Regions from separate parts of the Homo sapiens genome. Here region 2 is linked to region 1. Evidence: fine-mapped QTL for protein levels in blood plasma. A gene starts in region 1. The other region holds a variant in brackets. All regions are shown on one strand. Distances are from middle to middle.

Evidence for each region. PIP is the chance, under the fine-mapping model, that this variant and not a neighbour inherited with it causes the effect. The UK Biobank Pharma Proteomics Project read protein levels with antibody pairs (Olink). The fine-mapping took linkage between variants from a reference panel, not from the people measured, so its PIPs are less certain.
Region 2: its variant is fine-mapped to the plasma level of the SIGLEC8 protein (UK Biobank, PIP above 0.99).

The regions. Positions count from the first base shown.
Region 1 is chr19:51,453,037-51,462,362 of GRCh38, reverse strand. SIGLEC8 (sialic acid binding Ig like lectin 8) reads left to right here and starts at 3,909. Exons shown (of 7, transcript NM_014442.3): 1 at 3,909-4,429; 2 at 4,624-4,902; 3 at 5,132-5,179; 4 at 6,676-6,945; 5 at 7,583-7,679; 6 at 8,048-8,144. The coding sequence starts at 3,976. It also overlaps the pseudogene SIGLEC25P.
Region 2 is chr19:51,403,220-51,412,545 of GRCh38, reverse strand. SIGLEC10 (sialic acid binding Ig like lectin 10) reads left to right here. Exons shown (of 11, transcript NM_033130.5): 11 at 1,175-2,526. The coding sequence ends at 1,447. It also overlaps the pseudogene NIFKP6. Among named protein-coding and RNA genes, the nearest start is that of SIGLEC10-AS1, 7.8 kb to the left of the region's middle. RefSeq lists enhancers at 3,096-3,596, 4,614-4,663. The variant A/G (reference allele first, on the strand shown) is at 4,821.

The DNA of each region.
Region 1 (9,326 bases):
TACTAACAGGAGCTGGGGTGGCCCAGGGCTCCTCTGCCCCCTCGTTCATTAGGGAACTTCCCAAGGAAGGAGACAGAGTCTGTCACACTCTCCCCTTTGCCTCCATCCCCCTGAAAGGAGGAGATGCTCCTGATGTGGTGATTGTGCTCATTCATTAAACATCACCTCTCCCGCCTCGGGGGACCCCTCCCCATCTCTCATGCCTCGTGGTTCCTCCGCCAGCCCCTCCTGAGTCCCAGCTCTGGCAGGACTGACCCTCCCGAGCACCTAGAAGCTGTAATGGACAGGCAGTGCCTGCTTCCCTGGTGTGGACAGTGCTGTGGGAGGGAAAGGCTGTGGGCAGAGAGCCTGCAGCTGTGGGTCGGGGCCTCCCTGCTGTGTGTGGCCCACACTGAAGACCCATCCGGAGAGTAGAAATGGCCACTCCCCAGGAGCCCTGACAGCTCTGGCAGTGTCGGGGCCAAGGTCCTCTTTTGTGGTCAGTTATTTTTCTGATCTTACCCCCAGGCTTCCTGTGGGGCCCTTCTAGGGCCCTGCGACACCAAGGCTCACCCTAAAGAAGCTCACGCTGCAATAGCTGCTGCCCCTGCTGTGGGCAGGAGAATGGGCCTCAGGGAGAGGAACCATGGGGCTGGGCTGGGCTGACCCTCATTTCCCCACAGGGGATCTGGCTCAGGATATGAGATCCCGGCAGGAAGCCCCAGAGTTGGTGCAGGTGCAGGAGGGTTTCTGTGACTACGCACTGCTCCATCTTCCACCCCTGTGGGTACCTGTCTGACTCCAGCCCTGTCCAAGGCTACTGTCCCAGAAAGGGGACATTTCCATCAGGATCCTCAAGTGGCTGGAAGCAATCTAGTTGGAAAAGAGCAGGAGGAGACCCAGAGCCAATTCCACCTGCTTCAGACCCCAGGCCAGCACCTGCTTTCTGGACGTCAGAGACACACAGAGGCGAGATGCAGGGACAGACCTCTTTAGGGAGAAAAGGGAGATCTATGTGAATGTAATTACAGAAATGCTCTATGTGCATGTGAAGGGTAAGGAATGAGGTTATGAAAGGACACACGAATGGGGGTTCCCAGGGCAGTGAAGCTGACACATCAAATTAACTGTCACACTGCCCAAGGAGGCAGTGCTCAGCTCATACACAGAAACACACAGGTACACACAGACACTCCCTCTCCCTCACACACAGGGTCTCTCTCTCTCTGTCTCTCTCTCTCTCTCAATCACACACACACACACACACACACACACACACACACACACACCCAAGCATTGGGCATTCTGGGTACTGAGATGCGCTGTGTCCTTCCCTTTGCCCTGGGAAGCTGGGTCTCCCCTGAAAAGGTGAATGGCGCTAGTTGTCAGGTCAAAGAGACCCTGGGACATCGTCTTAGGATGAGAGAACTATTTGGGATGCCATTTTATGGATCCCTTGCCTGTCACTGTATGTGTCTCTCTGGGCCACCTGTGTCCATGTGGGTCACCAATCCCCATGTCAGGATTCAATGATTCTCTGCTCCCTAAGGCATAGCCCGTGGTGTCCCACACGCCCTCCTTGCCGTCCAGCAGGTGAACAAGTGAGCGGCTATCGTGTCTCCCTATGAGATGGGCCAGTGGTCAGCGTCAATATGTGAGAGCTGCAACAGCTCCTGCCCCTACACGGACCCCTCAGGGCTGCTGCTCCAACTTCCCCCTTCCCTTGTGGTGAACTTTGTCCAGGAAGCAAACAGGGAAGGGGATTCTGGGAATTGTAGTTCCAGCCTGGCTAAGTTGCTGGAGAGCAAGGCCTGCACAGGAGTCTTCACTGAAGGCTTCAATTACCACTTGGGGACCATGGAAAAGACCTGTGCCATGGCTCGGCCCTTCTGACTATTGAGATACTGCAGCTGTCTCTACTGGGCAAGGATAGGAGGCCCAGGAGGGGGAAATGGCTGCAGAATGAGATACCAGCTACAAATGCAAGCATTGGTGATGGGGGTGGGAGTCGGCTATGCACACCCAAGCCCTGCACCTTCCCTTCTCAATTATCACAGCCGAATGATCTACTCCAGGTTATAAGTAATGAGGGGAAGATAGGAGACGGGCAGATCCATGAAGCTGAGTGGAAGAAAGTAGAGTTTGATTTTCTGTGTATACAAAGTCTTCAGAAAAACGTGCAAAAGCTTAGTAAATGCAGCCTGCTCAGATAATAAAACTATATAGAAAAGCATTGAGGCAATTTGCACCAAAGTGAGGCTAGGGGATCGTTTGGGAGGGAGTGGGGTGTGGCCAATAAGAAGGAGAAACAAATGAGCAGCGCTGGGGACTTTGTCAATGTGCCATTTCTAGGAGGGGGCTCGTTGTATGTAAATCACTGAGGTCTTCTTTGGGGGTTGTTTTTATCTATATTTCTTATATTTACCCCCCAAAAAATGTTTCAAGAAAATTGACCTGAGTCTAAGGAGGCTCCGCCTCCCAGGATCCCCCTTAACTTCTTCCCAGCCCCCAGCCACACAGTTTAAAATAATCTGTTGAGGCCAGGCACGGTGGCTCACACCTGTAATCCCAGCACTTTGGGAGGCTGAGGTGGGTGGATCATGAGGTCAGGAGATCCAGACCATCCTGGTCGACATGGTGAAACCCCGGCTCTACTAAAAATACAAAAATTAGCTGGATGTGGTGGCGTATGCCTGTAATCCTAGCTACTTGGGAGGCTGAGGCAGGAGAATCGCTTGAACCAGGGAGTCAGAGGTTGCAGTGAGCCGGGATCGCGCCACTGCACTCCAGCCTGGCGACAGAGAGAGACTCCGTCTCAAATAATAATAATAATAATAATAATAATAATCATCATCATCATCATCATCATCATCATCATCTGTTGAATTCAGGTGCACATTTCTTCTCTCAAGAAATCCTGCCCATCGCTGAAGGTGCACACCCCAGGGCTGGTGTCCTCGTTCCATGACACCTGTTCACCTGGACCCCTGGAAGCAGAGCCTGCAGGAGCAAAGCCCCAGGGCTGACAGACCCCGCCTGCTGTGCAGTAACCAGGGGAAGTGTGGCTGAGTAAGATACGGGTGGTGAAGAAACCCATTCTGATACCCAGATAGCTGCAACAAAGGGAGAAGTGTGTGCCCTTTTCAAATTGACCCTTTCCCTTCTGACATTTCTCCCTTCCAAACCCCACAGTACAACAGTTACAGCCTCAGTTTCCCAGGCCTCCTGCGAGCCAGGCTTCCCCCCGCCCCCCGTCCTTCGTGTGTATCAACATGCAGAATCCTCACCTCCACAGCCCCGTGTCCCTCTGCTCAGGCCTCCTGAGACTGAACCCCTGACCTAGGGGAGAACGACCCCACCTTGCCTGTGCCCCCCACTGAAGCTCCCGTCCTGGGGAGCTCAGACGTCAGGAGCCTCCGTGTCTCCCCTCTGCACAGTGACTCCTTGAGGACAGTGTCTGGCTCTGCTCTGTTGACCTCGTTGTGTAAAGAGGAGGTGCCCACTTCGTTGCTGCTGAGAGAGGGAGGAGAGGCTGCCTGCTCACCTCACCTGCACCCCAGTCTCTCATGGCCCTGAGTTCCACCTTTGGCTGGTATGACCTCCACAAACAGTGACAGCCCCGGGGGTGATTCAGGGGTCTGGCCAGATGGGACCCAATTTCACCTTGCAGAAAATGTTACCCAAATGGAAGGGCAAGTCCGGGAAGCAAGAAAGAGGTTGGGCCCTGCATAGGGTGGGAATCTGGATGAGTTTCTCACCCTCTCTGGCCTCAGGGTTCCCAGGAGTGGAAATGGGGTGGTGGACAGTGGATCTCCCAGGACTGACCCGGCCCTGACAGTGTCTGTGTGTGAAGTTCCTCCTCTGAGGAGGTCACTTTTCTGACTTCACCCCCAACCTCCTGCGGGACCTCCCCTAAGTCTTGAGACCTCAGTTTCTGAGAGAAGAACCCTGAGGAACAGACGTTCCCTGGCGGCCCTGGCGCCTTCAAACCCAGACATGCTGCTGCTGCTGCTGCTGCTGCCCCTGCTCTGGGGGACAAAGGGGATGGAGGGAGACAGACAATATGGGGATGGTTACTTGCTGCAAGTGCAGGAGCTGGTGACGGTGCAGGAGGGCCTGTGTGTCCATGTGCCCTGCTCCTTCTCCTACCCCCAGGATGGCTGGACTGACTCTGACCCAGTTCATGGCTACTGGTTCCGGGCAGGAGACAGACCATACCAAGACGCTCCAGTGGCCACAAACAACCCAGACAGAGAAGTGCAGGCAGAGACCCAGGGCCGATTCCAACTCCTTGGGGACATTTGGAGCAACGACTGCTCCCTGAGCATCAGAGACGCCAGGAAGAGGGATAAGGGGTCATATTTCTTTCGGCTAGAGAGAGGAAGCATGAAATGGAGTTACAAATCACAGTTGAATTACAAAACTAAGCAGCTGTCTGTGTTTGTGACAGGTAAGGCACGGGCTCCAGCACAGGCCACAGGGGAAGGTCATGAGGGGCTGAAAGGCAGGGCTGGGATGGGGCCTGGGAGGGGGTTGGGATTGAAATAAGTCGGTCTCCGGGGAGGAGCTGGACCAGAGCTTGAGCTTCCTCCAGGGCTGCACCTGAAATACCTCCTCCTGATCCTGTGTCCCCATCTTCACCAGCCCTGACCCATAGGCCTGACATCCTCATCCTAGGGACCCTAGAGTCTGGCCACTCCAGGAACCTGACCTGCTCTGTGCCCTGGGCCTGTAAGCAGGGGACACCCCCCATGATCTCCTGGATTGGGGCCTCCGTGTCCTCCCCGGGCCCCACTACTGCCCGCTCCTCAGTGCTCACCCTTACCCCAAAGCCCCAGGACCACGGCACCAGCCTCACCTGTCAGGTGACCTTGCCTGGGACAGGTGTGACCACGACCAGTACCGTCCGCCTCGATGTGTCCTGTGAGTGCTGGACCAAGATGCCCAGGTCCCTCATGGGTTGGGAGGTGTTCCTGAGGGCAGGGGATGGGGTTCAAGCCTGGACACTGGGTTCTGGGTCCCAGAATCTGGGCTGGGAGTGGGGTCAGGAGAATGCCGACTCCATTTTCCCTGTATTTGCAGCTCCTGGGAAGACAGGGCCAATGTCCCCAGTCCTTATAGTAATGTGGGTCTTCATGTCTTTCTGTCCCAGACCCTCCTTGGAACTTGACCATGACTGTCTTCCAAGGAGATGCCACAGGTAGGACAGAGCCCCCTCCCTGGGGTTGGGGGAGCAGGGCCTTCAGCTCAGGATGGGGCTGGGTCTCTCCTCATCCTGGAATCACTTTGGGAAACAGAGCTGCCACTGTGCGTGAGCCCAGGGCACAAGAGCCCACATCTCCAGCCCGCGTGACCATCTGAGCCCCTGTCCCCATCCTGTCCCTGCTCCCCTTAGACTCCTCCACACACCCCTTCCTTGGCCCCACAGCAAGGACAGGGTGACATTCACACAGCTGGATCAGACTCCCAATTTTTTTGGTTTTTGTTCGTTTTTATTTTGGGACCAGACTTTCAAGTTTCTTGTCAGGCATCTCCTGAATACTTCCTCTGTCTGATCTTTCTGTTTTCCCAGTAGTTTCGATCTAAGTACTTCTGCCCAGATGATACAGTCACATGGGCAGAAATTCAAAATGCACAGCAAAGTCTGTCCTCCAGTGCCCATCCCCCTCCACGGAACTGACCAGCGTCCGTCCAGGCTGCCCTGAGTCTTGGTTTGTGCACCTGGAGGATCTCAGAGGTGGTTTGACATCGTAGTGAGACTGTCCACCCCGTCCTCTAGGACCGTGTGTGATTTCACTGCACAGATGGACTCTGACTTTGTGGCATCCCTTAAGGAAAATCATGGCACAAATATCCTTCCGCAGAAACTGTGCAGTGGATAGTCTTGTATCTACTTCCACAGGAATATCTAAGTGTATGGGATAAATTCCTAAAAGCAAAATATACCAGTGTCGTATGTTGTTTCTAATTTTGAAAGATGCAGTGAAGTTGTTCTCAATTAAAAGTGGACAAGTTTACATTCCCAGCACTGAGTGTGCGTTTTCCTGCACTTCAGTCTATGTCTGTGTGTCAGTCCCTCTCACTAGTCTCTTTCTGTGTCCTTCCTCTTTCTCTGGATCCATTTGTCTCTCTGACCCTCTGTCTCCTTTTATTATTATTATTATTATTATACTTTAAGTTTTAGGATACATGTGCACAACGTGCAGGTTTGTTACATATGTATACATGTGCCATGTTGGTGTGCTGCCCCCAGTAACTTGTCATTTAGCATTAGGTATATCTCCTAATGCTATCCCTCCCCCCACCCCACAACAGTCCCCGGTGTGTGATGTTCCCCTTCCTGTGTCCATGTGTTCTCATTGTTCAGTTCCCACTTATGAGTGAGAACATGCGGTGTTTGTTTTTTTGTCCTTGCAATAGTTTGCTGAGAATGATGGTTTCCAGCTTCATCCATGTCCCTACAAAGGACATGAACTCATCATTTTTTGTGGCTGCATAGTATTCCATGGTGTATATGTGCCACATTTTCTTAATCCAGTCTATCATTGTTGGACATTTGGGCTGGTTCCAAGTCTTTGCTATTGTGAATAGTGCCACAATAAACATACATGTGCATGTGTCTTTATAGCAGCATGATTTATAATCCTTTGGGTATATACCCAGTAATGGGATGACCCTCTGTCTCTTTCTCTGCAGCATCCACAGCCCTGGGAAATGGCTCATCTCTTTCAGTCCTTGAGGGCCAGTCTCTGCGCCTGGTCTGTGCTGTCAACAGCAATCCCCCTGCCAGGCTGAGCTGGACCCGGGGGAGCCTGACCCTGTGCCCCTCACGGTCCTCAAACCCTGGGCTGCTGGAGCTGCCTCGAGTGCACGTGAGGGATGAAGGGGAATTCACCTGCCGAGCTCAGAACGCTCAGGGCTCCCAGCACATTTCCCTGAGCCTCTCCCTGCAGAATGAGGGCACAGGTGGGTAAGGGAGGGGCTGGAGGAGGAGAACACACCTGCCCCACCCTCATGGACCACCCACTGCCCCTGAGCTTCAAGGGGGAGCTCAGCTCTGGTCTGTGCTCAGCTGTGAGGCCTGGAACTTCCCTGCGACCCAGAGCATCACTGTCCTCTCCCCGCCAGGAAAGGGGTGCGGGGTGGGGAGAGGGGAGGAGTGGGTCTTGGAGGGGAGGAGCTGGGGCCCGGCCAGGTGTGTTTGGAGGGACAAGCGCCTTGCTTTGCAGTGCTTAGACTAGGATGAGGCACATGAGGCACTTGCCTTGGCACCAAATTTAAGAAGCCAAAGAAAAACCCAACTCAGAAAGCAAGTAAAGTAATATTGCAATGCCATGATCTTTTGAAAAAACTAAAATTGAATGCAAAATGATTCCACAAGAACACAATATCAAAATTGTAAATAAAGGCAAGACAAGCTGCATCCAGCACTCTCATGCCTCACTGGCCTCAGAAGTAGTCTCCTTTCCTCCCTCCCATTCGTATTCTGTGTCTGGGAAGGAGAAGAGGGGAATGGAAGTCTAGGGCCCTGCAGACAGTGGGAGGGGAAGAGACCCACTTCTCCGTGATATAAATCCCCAAAGCAACTCCAATCCATCTGCAGGCACCTCAAGACCTGTATCACAAGTGACACTGGCAGCAGTCGGGGGAGCTGGAGCCACAGCCCTGGCCTTCCTGTCCTTCTGCATCATCTTCATCATGTGAGCATTGACCCTGGGGAGGGAGAGAGAGACCTGGGGCAGGGCAGACCGGGAACAGAATCCCTGAAGCCAGAGCTGGAAGGACCTGGATGGGTCCAGGGCTTGGGGCAAGAATGAGCTCACGGGTGCACGGTGAGCATTTCACGAGCGTCCTTGTCTGTGGGGCTCCACATCTGTAGCAACCTCGGGCCCCACCATCCATGAGGCAGGAGCCTCTGTTTTCACCGTTGGGGTCTCTGGAACTGGACCACCGCCGTTGCGCCTCGGTCACCCCTCAAGCCCCCAGTAGGAAATACAGGGCAGGGGTTGGTCTGCCCACTGCACCCCGATCTGACCACACTGAAAGGCTCTCTGGTCTCTTCACTCAGAGTGAGGTCCTGCAGGAAGAAATCGGCAAGGCCAGCAGCGGGCGTGGGGGATACAGGCATGGAAGATGCAAAGGCCATCAGGGGCTCGGCCTCTCAGGTGAGTGATGTGGGCTTCTCCACACCGAGCATCCAGCCTGGACACCTCTGACAGGATGGCCCCCAGGATCGCTCTCTTTGGTATGGCCAAAGTCACTTCCTCGTCTCCTCCTCCTTCCCACAGGCCGGCTTCTACAGGACTCCCCCATCTTGCTGACAGCATGGCAGTCCCTACCCCCAATTTTTCCCAGGCCAGGCACTGAGTAGGAGTTATCTCCTCTCTGTCCTCCTTTTCTTCTCTATAGCCCCGATTCACCATCTCTCCTCCATTTTTCCTCCCCAAGAATAGCTGGCATCTCTTCTCCCTGGCCCCAGCCATCCTGACCCCTCTCATTATTTTTCCTATTGGCGGGACCTGATTTCTTTGACCGGCTTGTCATCCTTACGCCACTAACCTGTGAGCTTCCCCAGGTCAGGTATCATGTCTCAATTAAGGCCCTGTAATTCTCTCTCATTTACTCTCGTTTTGCCCGTTGTATCATAATTTACATGTAGATACTCATTTCTTATTTTTATTTTTTTCTCGAGGCAGAATCTTGCTCTGTCACCTAGGCTGGAGTGCAGTGGGGCAATCTCGGCTCACTGCAACCTCTGCCTCCCAGGTTCAAGCAATTCTCCTGCCTCAGCCTCCCAAGTAGCCAGGATTACAGGCACGCGCCACCAAGCCAGGCTAATTTTTGTATTTTTAGTAGAGACGGGGTTTCACCATGTCGGCCAGCTGGTCTCGAACTCCTGACCTCGTGATCCGCCCGCCTCAGCCTCCCAAAGTGTTAGGATTAGGGGCATGAGCCACCGCACCCAAGCTGATATTCATTTCTTTAACAGTCATTTGTTGCCACCTCCCTCAATTAAAGACTGAGCTGCCACTTTGGGAGGCCAAGGTAGGAGGATCGCTTGAGCCCAGGAGTTTGAGACCAGCCTGGGCAACATAATGAGATCCCATCTCTACAAAAAAATGCAAAACTTAACCAGGCATGGTGGTGAGTTCCTGCAGTCCCAGCTACTTGGGGGGCTGAGATGGAATGATCCCTTGAGCCCAGGAAGTGGAGGGTGCAGTGAGCTGGGATTGCACCACTGCACTCCAGCCTGGGCAACAGAGCCAGACTCTGTCTCAAAAAAAAAACCAAAAAACAAAACAAAACAAAACAAAAACTGAGCTGCAGGAGGTCAGGGCCCACACCTA
Region 2 (9,326 bases), 50 kb after region 1:
ATCATGCCACTGCACTCCAGCCTGGGCAACAAGAGCGAAACTTCATCTAAAAAAAAAAAAAGACTAATTCCACCATTTATGCTCCATCTCTATCCCCATCTTAGCAAATAACACCACATTTTCCCAGCCAAGTCTAAAGCTTTAGAATCATATTTCACTCCTCTCTTCTCTGTCACCCCACAACCAATCCATCAGCAAATTCCCTTCAAAATACAACCAAGCCAGTTCTCCCTACTCTTCCCTCACTACTACAAGCCATGCATCAACACCCCCCACCCCACCCCGGGCACCACTGGCCCCTTCTGCATGCCTTCTCTGCTTCCGTTCTCACCCCCTCCAGTCTTTCTCTCCGTGCATGCATGCTATTCTTTATTTTATTTATTTTTATTTTATTTTATTTTTTGAGATGGGATTTCACTGTTGTTGTCTAGGCTGGAGTGCAGTGGCAAGGTCTCGGCTCACTGCAACCTCCACCTCCTGGTTCAAGCGATTCATCTGCCTCAGCCTCCTGAGTAGCTGGGATTACAGGCATCCACCACCATGCCCCCCTAATTTTTGTATTTTTAGTAGAGACGGGGTTTCACCATGTTGATCAGGCTGGTCTCAAACTCCTGACCTCAGGTGATCCACCCGCCTCAGCCTCCCAAAGTGCTGGGATTACAGGTGTGAACCACCGTACCCGGCTATCAATTATTTTTTTGAAACAGATTTTGTCTCTGTTGTCCGGGCTGGAGTGCAGTGGCGCAGTCTCAGCGCACTACAACCTCCACCTCTCAGGTTCAAGTGATTTTCCTGCCTCAGCCTCCTGAGTAGCTGGGACCACAGGCATGTGTCACCACGCCCGGCTAATTTTTGTATTTGTGGTAGAGACAGGGTTTCGCTATGTTGGCCAGGCCGGTCTTGAAATTCCCTGGATGACCTATTAAACAGTCATCCCACCCTCCCTTTCGCTGCCTTCTAAAGGTGCTCAAATTTCTTGATGGCATTTGTCACTTACCAGTCATTGTACTTTTGCTAATTATTGTCTGTTCCTCCTTCCAAGATGGAATGCAAGCTCAGCAAGGCAAGGGCAGGGACTTAGTTTCACTCTGTGCTGTAAATCAGTGCCCGACGCGTGGTAAGTGCTCAAATATTTGCTGAATGAATGAATGAAGGATGGTGGTTCTTCCCTCAGGCTCAGAAGCGGAATCAGAAAGCCACACCAAACAGTCCTCGGACCCCTCTTCCACCAGGTGCTCCCTCCCCAGAATCAAAGAAGAACCAGAAAAAGCAGTATCAGTTGCCCAGTTTCCCAGAACCCAAATCATCCACTCAAGCCCCAGAATCCCAGGAGAGCCAAGAGGAGCTCCATTATGCCACGCTCAACTTCCCAGGCGTCAGACCCAGGCCTGAGGCCCGGATGCCCAAGGGCACCCAGGCGGATTATGCAGAAGTCAAGTTCCAATGAGGGTCTCTTAGGCTTTAGGACTGGGACTTCGGCTAGGGAGGAAGGTAGAGTAAGAGGTTGAAGATAACAGAGTGCAAAGTTTCCTTCTCTCCCTCTCTCTCTCTCTTTCTCTCTCTCTCTCTCTTTCTCTCTCTTTTAAAAAAACATCTGGCCAGGGCACAGTGGCTCACGCCTGTAATCCCAGCACTTTGGGAGGTTGAGGTGGGCAGATCGCCTGAGGTCGGGAGTTCGAGACCAGCCTGGCCAACTTGGTGAAACCCCGTCTCTACTAAAAATACAAAAATTAGCTGGGCATGGTGGCAGGCGCCTGTAATCCTACCTACTTGGGAAGCTGAGGCAGGAGAATCACTTGAACCTGGGAGACGGAGGTTGCAGTGAGCCAAGATCACACCATTGCACGCCAGCCTGGGCAACAAAGCGAGACTCCATCTCAAAAAAAAAATCCTCCAAATGGGTTGGGTGTCTGTAATCCCAGCACTTTGGGAGGCTAAGGTGGGTGGATTGCTTGAGCCCAGGAGTTCGAGACCAGCCTGGGCAACATGGTGAAACCCCATCTCTACAAAAAATACAAAACATAGCTGGGCTTGGTGGTGTGTGCCTGTAGTCCCAGCTGTCAGACATTTAAACCAGAGCAACTCCATCTGGAATAGGAGCTGAATAAAATGAGGCTGAGACCTACTGGGCTGCATTCTCAGACAGTGGAGGCATTCTAAGTCACAGGATGAGACAGGAGGTCCGTACAAGATACAGGTCATAAAGACTTTGCTGATAAAACAGATTGCAGTAAAGAAGCCAACCAAATCCCACCAAAACCAAGTTGGCCACGAGAGTGACCTCTGGTCGTCCTCACTGCTACACTCCTGACAGCACCATGACAGTTTACAAATGCCATGGCAACATCAGGAAGTTACCCGATATGTCCCAAAAGGGGGAGGAATGAATAATCCACCCCTTGTTTAGCAAATAAGCAAGAAATAACCATAAAAGTGGGCAACCAGCAGCTCTAGGCGCTGCTCTTGTCTATGGAGTAGCCATTCTTTTGTTCCTTTACTTTCTTAATAAACTTGCTTTCACCTTACCGCCTCGTCTTGAATTATTTCTTGTGTGAGATCCAAGAACCCTCTCTTGGGGGGTCTAGATCAGGACCCCTTTCTTGTAACACAGCTACTTGGGAGGCAGACGCAGGAGGATCACTTGAACCCAGGAAGCAGAGGCTGTGGTGAGCCAAGATCACACCACTGCACTCCAGCCTGAGCAACAGAGTGAGACCCTGTCTCGAAAAAATAAAAATCCTCCATGGATAGGCCATCTCATCCCAGACCTGGGCATTCGGAACAGCCTGACAAATCTGTCCTGAATGGCCTTCTCTGAATATGGTGTTCTGAGAAGGCAGGCAAAGATTTGCCTTTGACACACCCCAGCTCCAGTCCAGAGGACTGCGCAGTTTCATGGGTTCTCAGAGATGGGAGGGTCTTTAAAGATGACTAGATACAGCCAGGCGCAGTGGCTCACGCCTGTAATCCCAGCACTTTGGGAGGCTGAGGCTGATGGATCGCTTGAGGCCAGGAGTTTGAGACCAGCCTGGCCAACATGGTAAAACCCCGTCTCTACTAAAAATACAAAAATTAGCTGGGCGTGGTGGTGCGCAACTGTAGTCCCAGCTACTCGGGAGGCTGAGGCAGATTTGCTTGAACCCAGGAGGCCGAGGTTGCAGTGAGCTGAGATGGCGCCACTGCACTCCAGCCTGTGCAACAGAGCGAGACTCTGTTTAAAAAAAAAAAAAAGACTAGATAGGCTCCTCAGTCACCTCCAGCCTGCTGCCTATTTTCATACCACCTGCAAGCTAGAAATGTTTTTACATTTAAATGCTTGGGGAAAAAGTCCGAAGAAGAAGACTCTTCTGGGGCCCCTGGGAAGGAGATGAAATTCAAATTTCAGTGTGGTGCCCAACCATGCTCATTCCTTTACACATTGCAGTTATTTTCATGCAGAGTTGAGTCACTAGCCTGCAAAGCCTAAAATATTTACCATCTGATCCTTTACAGAAGTTGGCTAGATCTTAATCTACATAAACTCATTTGTTTTCACAGAAGAGGAAGCGAGCGCAGAGGTCCATAAAGAGTTCAAGAGTAGCCGTGGGAAAAATGACTAGGTCTGTGACTACAGGAAGGTTTTCAGGGTGAGGATTGGAAGGGCAGGAGACTGCATGTGGATGGGGTGCTAATGCGCTCTCAGACCCACAAATCTAAAGAAGTGCAAACGCATGCGGGGATGGAGGTTGGAATGCTTTGGAAATGGAACAATGACAAACTTACAACATGCTAAGAATCACACAGTGGCTCACGCCTGTAATCCCAACACTTTGGGAGGCTGAGGTGGGCGGATCACCTGATGTCAGGAGTTCAAGACCAGCCTGGCCAACATGGTGAAACCCCGTCTCACCTAAAAAAATACAAAAATTAGCCAGGTGTGGTGGCGGGCACCTGTAATCCCAGCTCCTCGGGAGGCTGAGGCAGGAGAATTGCTTGAACCTGGGAGATGGAGGTTGCAGAAGCCGAGATCATGCCACTGCATTCCAGCCTGGGCAATAGAGTGGGACTCCGTCTCAAAAGAAAAGAAATAGAGCAAAGGAGAGCACTTTGCTGGCCATCTCCTCTGCTGACCTCTGCTCCTCCATAGCCACCCAAGGGGCCTTTCTTCGGTAGTTATTGCATCGTTGGTGACATGGCAAGGTGGCCCTCTCTGGTGTGTTTTGTTTCCTGGCTGTGCTAAACACTCCAGATACTGAAAAATAAAAAATTAAAAACTGAGCTGGACACGGTGGCTCACGCCTGTAATCCAGCACTTTGTGAGGCCGAGGCAGGCGGATCACTTGAGCTCAGGAGTTCGAGACCAGTCTGAGCAACAGAGCGAGAGCCTGTCTCTACTAAAAATACAAAAATTAGCCAGGTGTGGTGGCAGGTGCCTGTATTCCTCAGCTATTCAGGATCCTGAGGCATGAGAATCGCTTGAACCTGGGAGGCAGAGGCTGCAGTGAGCTGAGATCGCGTCACTGCACTCTAGCCTGGGTGACACAGCGAGACTATGTCTCAAAAACAAAGAAAAAACCTGAATTAGCTGCAAGGACCAAAGTTGGCCACCAGACGTCGGTATACCCAGGATGATAGGACTATAGACTCATGGTGTGGAATGGGATCACCCAATGCAGCCACCTCATTTTACAGAAGGACTTCAGAGAGGGACAAGGTCTTGCATGTCACACAGCTGAACTCCAGAGCTGGGATTCAAACTCAGGCCCAGGATGGGTGAGCACTGCTGGTTACACAGTCTCCTTTAAGCTTAGAGTGGGAAGGATGCTGCAAGGGCTTGAGAA[A/G]AAGGGAACTCCCTACAAGCTGCACAAAGACTGAGACTCTGCTTCCTTCCTTCTACCACCAAATTCTGCCATGAGAGCAACCCTTGAAGATCTGTTTGACCTGGGAAATTACAAGATTGCATTGCTAAGGCACCAGGTTTGACTAGGTGTCAGTAACTTTGAAATGTGTGTGTTAAGGTCCTGACTTCTGCAATAGTGACTTGGGACTTGGAGGGAGGGCATTGTTATCCAGTACTCTTGGGGAAAGGCAATGTTGTGCAAATGAAAACAAACAAACAAACAAACAAAAACACCAGGCTTGGAGTCAGAAAACCCAAGGGGAACTTTCCGTATTGCCAAATATTCTTTTTCTTTTTTTTTTTTTTTTTTTGAGACAGTCTCGCTGTCGCCCAGGCTGGAGTGCAGTGGTGCAATCTTGGCTCACTGCAAGCTCCGCCTCCCGGGTTCATGCCATTCTCCTGCCTCAGCCTCCCGAGTAGCTGGGATTACAGGTGCCTGCCACCGCGCCCAGCTAATTTTTTGTATTTTTAGTAGAGACGGGGTCTCACTGTGTTAGCCAGGATGGTCTTGATCTCCTGACCTTGTTATCCGCCCGCCTCGGCCTCCCAAAGTGCTGGGATTACAGGCATGAGCCACTGCGCCTGGCCCCCAAATATTCTTTTTAACCAGTCAACTGGGACATTAACTGCAGGAAGTATGAATATAAAATAGTTATATGTTTTCTGATCACTGAGTCAATCATGTTTTTTTGTTTGTTTGCTTGTTTGGTTTTCGTTTTTGAGACAAGAGTCTTGTTCTGCTGCCCAGGCTGGAGTGCAATGGTGCGATCTTGGCTCCCTGCAAACTCTGCCTCCCGGGTTCAAGCGATTCTTATGCCTCAGCCTTCCGAGTAGCTGGGACTACACGTGTGCGCGCCACCACACCCAGCTAATTTTTGTATTTTTACTACTAGAGATGGGGTTTCGCTATGTTCACCAGGCTGGTCTCCAACTCCTGACCCCAACTGCTTTGCTTGCCTCAGTCTCCCAAAGTGCTGGGATAACAGATGTGAGTCACCGTGCCCAGCCTCCTCTGTTTCTTGATATGAGAGTTGTGTCCCCTGCTTCTCCCATACCTTCTCCAATTCCACCATTGGCAGACACCATGCAGCCTCTTACCGCTTTCTTGGGTGACATATCACCTAGATTGCAGAAGCCCAGCTACCCTCCTTCGTGTCCATCCACCCCCTGCTATAGACAAAATGTATGTGTCCTTCCAAAGTCTAGGTTGAATTCCTAACCCCCAATGTAATGATATTTGAAGTCAAGACCTTTGGAAGGTGATTAGGTCATGAGGGTGGTGCCCTCATAAATGGGATTAGTGCCCTTAATAAGAGACCCCAGAGAGCTGTCCCTCCTACCAAGTGAGGACACAACCAGAAGGCACCATCTGTAAGCCTGGAAGTGAGTCCACATCAGACACTGAATCTGCTGACATCTTGATCTTGGACTTCCCAGCCTCTAAAACTATAAGAAATAAATTTTCATTGTTTACAACCCATCCAGCCTATGGTATTGTTGTTATAGTAGCCAGAAAGGACTCAGAAACCCACACATCCTAACCATGCTGGACTGTGGAGTGCAGGCTACACTGCCCCAAGCTCCTCGTTGCCCCCAGCTTTTCCTCTCTAATGCTCCTCTCCCCTGCGCAGGGAGATGCAGGGCACAGCAAGAAGTTGGCTGCCCACACAGACACCCAATGGGGAGATAGTGTGTTGATTCCTCCCATTCTATCAGGAAACCCTAGTCTTTCCTAAACATTTTCTTGGAGCACCCCCTCCTATCCAGAGCCCTGGTACACGTGAAGAGTTCAGGAAAGAGAGGATGATGAAGCATCTCACCAAAGACTTCTCACCTGTCCAACAGCCAGCTGGCAGCTTTGTTTTTTTGGGAAGCTAGGCAGAGAGAAGCTTTCTGACCCCATTATTGGCTGCCCTCTTTAAACCATTTAAGAGGCAACAGAAAAAGTCCTATTCGGGGCGGGGCACAGTGGCTCACGGCTGTAATCCCAAGACTTTGGGAGGCCAAGGCGGGTGGATCGCTTGAGGTCAGGAGTTCGAGACCAGCCTGGCTAACATGGCAAAACCCTGTCTCTACTAAAAATACAAAAATTAGCCAGATGTTGTGGCGGGTGCCTATAATCCCAGCTACTTGGGAGGCTGAGGCAGGAGAATCACTTGAACCTAGGAGGTGGGTGTTGCAGTGAGCCAAGATTGCACCACTGCACTCCAGCCTGGGCAACAGAGTGAGACTGCATCTCAAAAAAAAAAAAAAAAAAAAAAAAAAAGAAAAAGAAAAAGAAGAAAGAAAGAAAGAGAAAAAGAAAGAAAATGTCCTATTCCTGGAAACCATCATTCTGAGCAAACTGTCGCAAGGACAGAAAACCAAACACCACATGTTCTCACTCATAGGTGGGAATTGAACAATGAGAACACTTGGACACAGGGCGGGGAACATCACACACCGGGGCCTGTGGTGGGGTTGGGGGATGGGGGAGGGATAGCATTAGGAGAAATACCTAACGTAAATGATGAGTTAATGGATGCAGCAAACCAACATGGCACATGTATACATATGTAACAAACCTGCACGTTGTGCACATGTACCCTAGAACTTAAAGTATAATAATAATAAAAAAAGAAAATGTCCTATTCGACATTTGCTAATGAGGAGGACTTAGGTATCATTTATACAGAAAATGTCATCTTTATTAAATAAGTCATACCCCCACCCTCAAGTTTTTGCAGCAAAATGGCTCTGCAAAGAGTTTCTGCCATGGATTGAAAGTTTGTGTCCCTCCAAAATTCATGTTGAAACTTAATCCCCAATGCAATAATATGAAGAGACAGGGCCTTTAGGAGGTAATTATGTCATGAGGGATCCTCTTTCATGAATGGGATTTAGACTATAAAAGAGGCTTCACGCAGTGTTGGCCCCTTTTTGCCCTTCCACCTTCCATAAGAGAGGCACATCTTGGAAGCAGAGATCAGGCCCTCACCAGATACTGAACCTGCTGGTGCCTTGATCTTGGACTTCGCAGCCTCCAGAGCCATGAGAAGTACTTTTTTATTATTTAAATATTACCCAGTTTGTGGTATTCTGCTATAGCCACACAAATGAACTAAGACAGCCTGTGATATGAAGATGGCACCAATCCTGCCCCACGCTCATGAGAGCTCTTCAAGAAAGCACTGGCAATGCTCACGATGGATTTTGAAACAGGCAGAGATGAACTCTCCCAAGTGGTAATTCCCACACCTACATCAACAGCCTCCAGCTCCAGAGAGCACCACGTTTATTTCTTCTTGACTTTTTTTTTTTTTTTTTTGAGATGGAATCTCCCTCTGTTTCCCAGGCTGGAGTGCACTGGCACGATCTCAGCTCACTGCAACCTCCGCCTCCCAGGTTCAAGAGATTCTCCTGCCTCAGCCTCCTGGGTAGCTGGGATTACAGGCATGCACCACCACCCCTGACTAATTTTTGTATTTTTTCTTAGTAGAGACAGGGTTTCACCATGTTGGCCAGCATGGTCTCGAACTCCTGACCTCGTGATCCATCCACCTCAGCCTCCCAAAGTGCTGGGACTACAGGCATGAGCCACCATGCCCGACCTTAAATTTTTTTGGTAGATATGGGGTCTTGCTTTGTTGCCGATGCTGATCTCAAATTCCTGGCCTCAAGCAGGCCTCCTGCCTCAGCTATCCAGGCGACTAGGATGACAGGCGTGAGCCACCACACCCAGCCTGCATCTATTGTTTCCCAGACATCTGTATGTGGACACCCTGCAAGTACCTCATGTCCAAAACACATGCATTATCCTCTCATGCTCTCCTAAATGCTCCCAGCCTGAAAGCCCTTCTTCCCTTCATATCCTTGATCTTAGCTTACCATGCCACCATTGCCCAAACTCAAAATCTTAGGAACAACTCTGACTTATCCCTCACTCCACGTATCGGCAACTCCCGGTCATTCTCCCTCCTAAATATCAGGTGGTGCTGCCTCCCCCACCCTCCCAGCTGCCACTGATCCTGATGTTCCATCACTTGGACTGTGTATACATACGTATGTTAAAAGAATAGATGCCCGTTTTCTGCCTCATGGGAGCTGGGAGCCCGACGTTTCCAGGAGCACCGCGTGGAGTTAGTGTCGGCCGCTTTTGGCATGGCAGCTTTTTCTGGCCTGGCTGAGATCTCACTGCTTAACCCGCAGGAAGATGTCCAGTTTCAAAAGGAGGTGGCGCAGGTTTGCAAGCACATAACCCAGCAAAAAAAACAAGAACAACCCTACTTAACGAAACCCAGATCTTTTCATATTTCTCCCAGTTTGGCACTGTGACACAGTTCAGACTGTCCAGAAGTAAAATGACTGGAAATGGCAAAGGCTATGCATTTGTGGAGTTTGAGTCTGAGGATGTTGCCAAGATAGTTGCTGAAACAATGAACAACTACCTGTTTGGTGAAAGACTCTT